Linked DNA regions of Homo sapiens: region 1 is linked to region 2. Evidence: fine-mapped expression QTL. A gene starts in region 2. The other region holds a variant in brackets. All regions are shown on one strand. Distances are between the middles of the regions. Region 1 overlaps LINC01932 (long intergenic non-protein coding RNA 1932). Region 2 holds the start of RNF145 (ring finger protein 145).

Region 1 (2,808 bases), 33 kb before region 2:
AGGAAAACTCAAACTTGAACCCTCAAAACCTGCTGTGGGAATGTAAAATAGTATAGCCACTGTAAAAAAAAAAAAAAAAAAAAAAAAAAAAAAAAACATTTCCTAAAAATGTTTCAGACAGAGTTACTACAGTATATGACCCAGAAATTACCCACCTGGGAATATATCAAGAGAATCAAACCATATGTTCAAATAAAATCTTATACATGAATGTTCGTAGTAGGCATAGTTTATAATGGGCAGAAAGTGGAAACAAGCTACATATCCATGAGTGGATAAATGGCATGAACAAAATATGGCAGACCCATACATTGGAATGTCATCCAGCCATAAAATGGAATGAAGTGCTGATACTTGCTACAATATGGATGAAACTTGAAAACACTATCCTAAGTTAAAGAACCCACACGAAAGGCCACATAATGTTTCAATTTATATAAAATGTCTAGAATAGGCAAATCTATAGAGGCAAAACATAGATTAGTGGTTACCAGGTGGAAGTGGGGGCAGGAATTGGGAGTGACTGCTTAATGTGTATGGAGTTTCTTTTTGGGGTGACAAAAATCTTCTGAAGTTAGATAGTAGTGATGGCTGCACAACATTGTGAATGTACTAAAAGCCACTGGTTTGTATACTTCACAGTGTTTTTAAATGAATTTTACCTCAATAAAAAACTTTATTAATCCTCAACACAATCTCCATTGTCTGAGGCATTGTTAATATCTCCAATTCCCAGATCTCATTCTCCTATGTAAGAACAGCAGCTCAATCTTTCATCTTCTGCAAGTTTTTTTCAGTTTATTCACTTTACTCACTCTTTTTTATCTTAGCTTCTTGTGAAAGCAGATTTATGCTTTTACAAAAATATGCTTTCATCCAGGCCATCTTTTATTGCCACCTTAAGTTTTTTTTAAAATTTATCTGATATATTTTAAAGGATGCTTTTGTTGCAGCTACTTGAACTTGGATGTTCAATGCATTTTCTGAAGACCAGGTCTCTCTCATAATCTCTTTTAACCCAGAGTAAACAATCGGATATTTCCAGATTTTTTGCTTATGGCCACCAGTTTTTGTATATATTATCATTTGTTCTCAAGTCTGGCTTCCATTAAAGCAGAGTGAAATCTTTCAAATTCTATTCGAATGAGGCTAAGCTTGAAAAAAAAATGATGTTTTTCCTCCAGGAAGGCAGAAAATCCAATAGTCAGTACTTTATGTTTATTTGGATAAAGTTCTATTTTAATAATCAAAAATCTGACTATGACTGAAAATACCTTTCTATCCCATAGCAATTGGTGGGGGTCTCTGTTAAGGTTTGAGAAGCACTGCTCTAAACTGTTTCTCACGCTTCAGGTATCAGCTGACGTGCACTTCCTCAGGAAGGCTTTTGTAATCCACAGTCTT[G/C]AGTCAGGCCCTTAATTATGAACTTCAAATAAGCTCCAGCCTTTCCTTCAAATATTTATCATAGTTTATCGTCGCATGCTCACCTCCACCCAGAAGTAGCTATTATCCTAAATTTTGTGTTAAGCCTATGTTTTCCTTAGACCCTACCACACATGTAGGTAGCTCTAAACAAACTATTATTTGATTTTGTCTGTTTTTTAAACTACATCTATTAAGTCACATCATATGTGACTTTCTGTGACTTACTACTTGGCTTTCACTCTGTGTTGTGAAATTCATCCATTTATTATGTGTAGTTGCAGTGTATTCATTTTCACTGCTGTATAAAATTCCATGATATGGATAGATGACAGTTTTGTAATCCATTTTAATGTCAATAGAAATTTCAATTGTGTCAATGTTTTTTGCTGTTAGGAACAATTATGGGCTATTGTGCAATGGAGTTTCTTATTGTGTCTCTTGCTTCACATGTACAAAGAATTTTTTTTTAGTTTAACATTAGGGGTAGAATTGCTTGGTATATGACACATGCTTACTTGACTTTACTAGGTGATGACAAATTGCTTTTCAAAGTTGTTGTAGCAAATCACAACCCCACCAGGAGTGTGTGAGTTTACAATGCTCTATATTCTTGTCAAAACTTGGTATTGTCTTATTTTTACGTTTATGCCAGTCTGGTGGATTTAAACAGTTTCTCATTGTGGTTTTAATTTGCATTTATCTGATTACTAATGAGACTGAATCTTGTTTCCTGTGTTTCTCGGCATTTGGATTTCCTCTTCTGTGAAGAGCCTTTTGCTCATTTTCTACTGAGTTATTTGTCTTTTTCCTTATTGATTTGTAGGAATTATTCATAGACTCTAGATACTAATTTTTGTGCATTATATATATTATATGACTATCTTCTCCCAGTTATGGCTTCTCTTTTCATTCTTTTTACCATGTCTTTTATTGAAAAGAAGTTGTTAATTCTTACGATTTATTACCTTTTGCTTTACAGGTGGTTCTTCTTGTACTTTGTATAAGAAAACCTTTCTTAACCTAAGGTCATAAAGATATTCCAGCCTGGCATGGTGGCGCACACCTGTAATCCCAACACTTTGGGAGGCTGAGGCGGGCAGATCACCTGAGGTGAGGAGTTCAAGACCAGTCTGGCCAACATGGTGAAACCTTGTCTCTACTAAAAATACAAAAAAATTAGCTCACGTTGTGGCAGACGCCTGTAATCCCAGCTACTTGGGAGGCTGAGGCAGGAGAATCGCTTGAAACCAGGAGGCGGAGGTTGCAGTGAGCCAAGATTGCGCTGTTGCACTGCAGCCTGGGCAACAAGAGTGAAACTCCATCTCAAAATGTAAAAAATAATAATTTTCATATTTTCTCTTGAAAGTCTTAAGGTTTACATTT
Region 2 (2,808 bases):
CACTGGGATGTGACAGGATTTATGACTATGGTGAAGTAGTCTGAGGCACCTGGATGAAAGGTGGTTATAGTGAGTTATGTACACAATTCCCACACATTTTAAACACTTGATTCCTACAGAGCTATCAAACTAATGGAAGGCAAGTTACTCAGAGTTTGGTTGACTGATACCTCCAGGGATTGCATTTTCTAAATACAGAGCTTGCTTTCACAATTTCAGCAGGATACAAGAGTGTTCAGAATTGGGGGTTTACCATTCAAAGGGCAGAGGCCAGAGACTTGAATTTACAAGGAGGGTCCTCAACACAGACATCGAGATTACAGTACATTAATTTCTCTTGCACATGAAGAAGTTGAGGCTTCACAATTTCAGCATGACCCAGTATAGTTGCAACATCTTACCCATCACTGGGTGTGTATCTTCTGTGTACACTGGCCCTTTCAACATCTAAGGCCAGGCTAGGTGCTCATAGCAACTGGCTCCCCAGGAACTAACGAAAGAGAAAGCAAGAAACAGTGGAGGGGTTTTGGTGATGGTGGAAGGCAGGGGAGATAGAAGTGGGGGTTGCAGAAGGTCGTGGTGAGGCAGAGTGGCAGACAAATGGGGAATGAGAAGTCTTGCCAAGCCCAGAAGACTATCGTTGTGTAAACACACAATATGCTTCAGGCTATGTATTCTGGGCAACAGTTCCTGCCCTAAAAGGTGTGGACATTTAAATTAGGGTAGGATTGCGCATTCTGTGATAGAGACTGGCACAGAGACAAAGTGGAACTCCTCTACGTTGGGGAGGGGAAAACATACATTAGCCTGTTTTGAACCTTAGACCAAGACAAGACAAACACACAAACACCATTTAATTTCATACTGCAATAAAATTCTTTGTACCAAACCATGGGATCAAAATTGTTACAGATACTCAGTGAACAGTTCCAATGCATTCATTCATCCAGTCACTTACTCCACAGGGGTTTGAGTGCCTGCACTTGGTGCTGGGCACGGCTGAGCCATCCCAGACGCCAAGGAGTTTACAGTCTAGTCCAGTCAGTGACGAGGTTAAAACGAATTCTCGCATCATTGCTACTGCGAATGCACCGGGACAGGATCAGCCCTTCAAATTCTCCCACGTGGTCCCTGCAGGTGAGTGTGGGTGTGAGCGCTTGCGGCCCGTGGTGTTTGGGAGTGAGAGAGCACGTGTGTCAGAATGGCGCCTGTCACAGTGCGCGTCCAGGTGTCTCTGCAGTACGCCTCTCCATAGCCACCCGAGCCGGGCTGTATGGGCTTGGCTAGGCTTATGTCTCCCGCCCACGCACCGGAGGCGGTGCGGAAAGCACTCCGCGGGCGCGATTGTGAGTGAGCGCGGGCGCGCGCGGGAGGGGCGCGCCGCGCTGGCTGGGCCGCGCGCAGGCGCAGAGTGCGGAAGTCGGGCCGCGGCCGCCGCAGAGCGCCGGGGGCGGGAGGAGCAAACGCAGGAGGCCATGGCCGCCGACGCCGGCGCCGGCTGCTAAGGGGCTCGGCCCGCGAGCGCCTGCTGCCGCGGACGATGGTGACCGTACGGGCCGGGCCGCTGCCGCTGCCGCTGCCTCCGCCTCCCCAGAAGCAACATCCGAGGCTCGGCGCAGAAGAGCCGCCGCTGTGAGCCGTGCCGTACCGGCCCCCGCCGCCGCCCGAGGAGAACGGGAGGGCGGGCGAGAGAGCCGGGGAGTTGCGGAGCCCGCCCGCCGGCAGCGCCGCTCCCCAGGGAGGGAGTCCGCAGCCTGAGGTGACCACGCCGCCCGCCCGGCCCCTTCCCATCCCCGCGCCCCCCGGCCGCTTCCCACGGCCTCCCTCCCCTCCCCCATCGCGTCGCAGGCTCCTTCCTCTTCTCCCTGTTCGCCCCTTTCCTTTTATCTCGCTTCACCTCCCTCTTCTCCCTAGCATTGGAGGAGTCCACATCCCCTCTTCAGCCGCAGCACCCCTCCCTCCCATCCTCTAGCTCTTCCCGCGGTGGTCGCCTCCCTCCGACCCTGCTCTCCCCTCCTGGGCCCCGCGCAAAGCCCCCTCTGTTCCAGCTCCCGGGCCTCGGCTGCCTCCCCGCCCTCCCATCCCTTCCTCTTCCCAGGGCCTGGAGCGCTCCCTTACATTCCTGAGATGCCCTTCCTCGGGGCTGTCCCCCTTTGCCTCCCCAGCATCCCATTTCTAGGCCTTTTTCAAGACCCTTCCAGAGCGGCCCCTTTCCAGCTCCCTTTCTCGTTTCCATTTCCAACTTTGCCTCTTTTGCCTCTTTGTTCACTTTGCTTCCAAGCTCCCCTCCCTCTTTCCCTTCGTCTTACCCTGCTTTGATCTACGCAGCCCCAAACTCAAGCTCCCCGCTTTCAGGTGGTGCGAGGTTGTTTGGGGGTGCGGAAGGGCCTGCCAGTCCATTTTTCGAGGGGGGCCCATTGCTCTGCATCCCGTCCGTCAGTCCCTTTTATAGTAAGAGGGCTCCTCATCCCTTCCTTTTTGTCCCCGTGGTTTCCTCTGTCTTGCCATCCCTTCTGTCTTCTCCCTCCAATACTGCTTTCCCCACCCAAGGACCCTCAGACCCGTGAACCCCCTTTCTGGAATGAGTTCCCTTTCTGTTCGGGGATGCTGAACTTCGCCCGCGTTTTTCTTCGCGAGCCTTTTGGTACGTGGCGTGGCGCGACAGAGTCAGCACCCTTGGCGAGATAGGAGGGGAGCTCTCGAGCCTCTTTCCTGGAAGAGTTTTTGCTGAACGTAATCTCTTAGCCCCGCGGCGGCGGCGGCCCGGTTGCTGCTGCTACTGCTGCTGCGCTGCCTGCTTGCCGCGAG

Evidence for each region. PIP is the estimated chance that this variant, and not a neighbour inherited with it, causes the effect.
Region 1: its variant is the best candidate, but not a certain one, in a credible set for the expression of RNF145 in whole blood (INTERVAL, PIP 0.61).

The regions. Positions count from the first base shown.
Region 1 is chr5:159,241,457-159,244,264 of GRCh38, reverse strand. All of the region lies in intron 2 of LINC01932 (long intergenic non-protein coding RNA 1932), which reads right to left. Among named protein-coding and RNA genes, the nearest start is that of LINC01932, 15 kb to the right of the region's middle. The variant G/C (reference allele first, on the strand shown) is at 1,405.
Region 2 is chr5:159,208,182-159,210,989 of GRCh38, reverse strand. It overlaps RNF145 (ring finger protein 145), which reads left to right and starts at 1,437. Exons shown (of 11, transcript NM_001199383.2): 1 at 1,437-1,759. LOC107986468 (a long non-coding RNA gene) reads right to left here. Exons shown (of 2, transcript XR_001742943.2): 1 at 2,310-2,808; 2 at 838-1,131. RefSeq lists enhancers at 965-1,064, 2,652-2,771, 2,671-2,808 and silencers at 1,235-1,524, 1,565-1,754.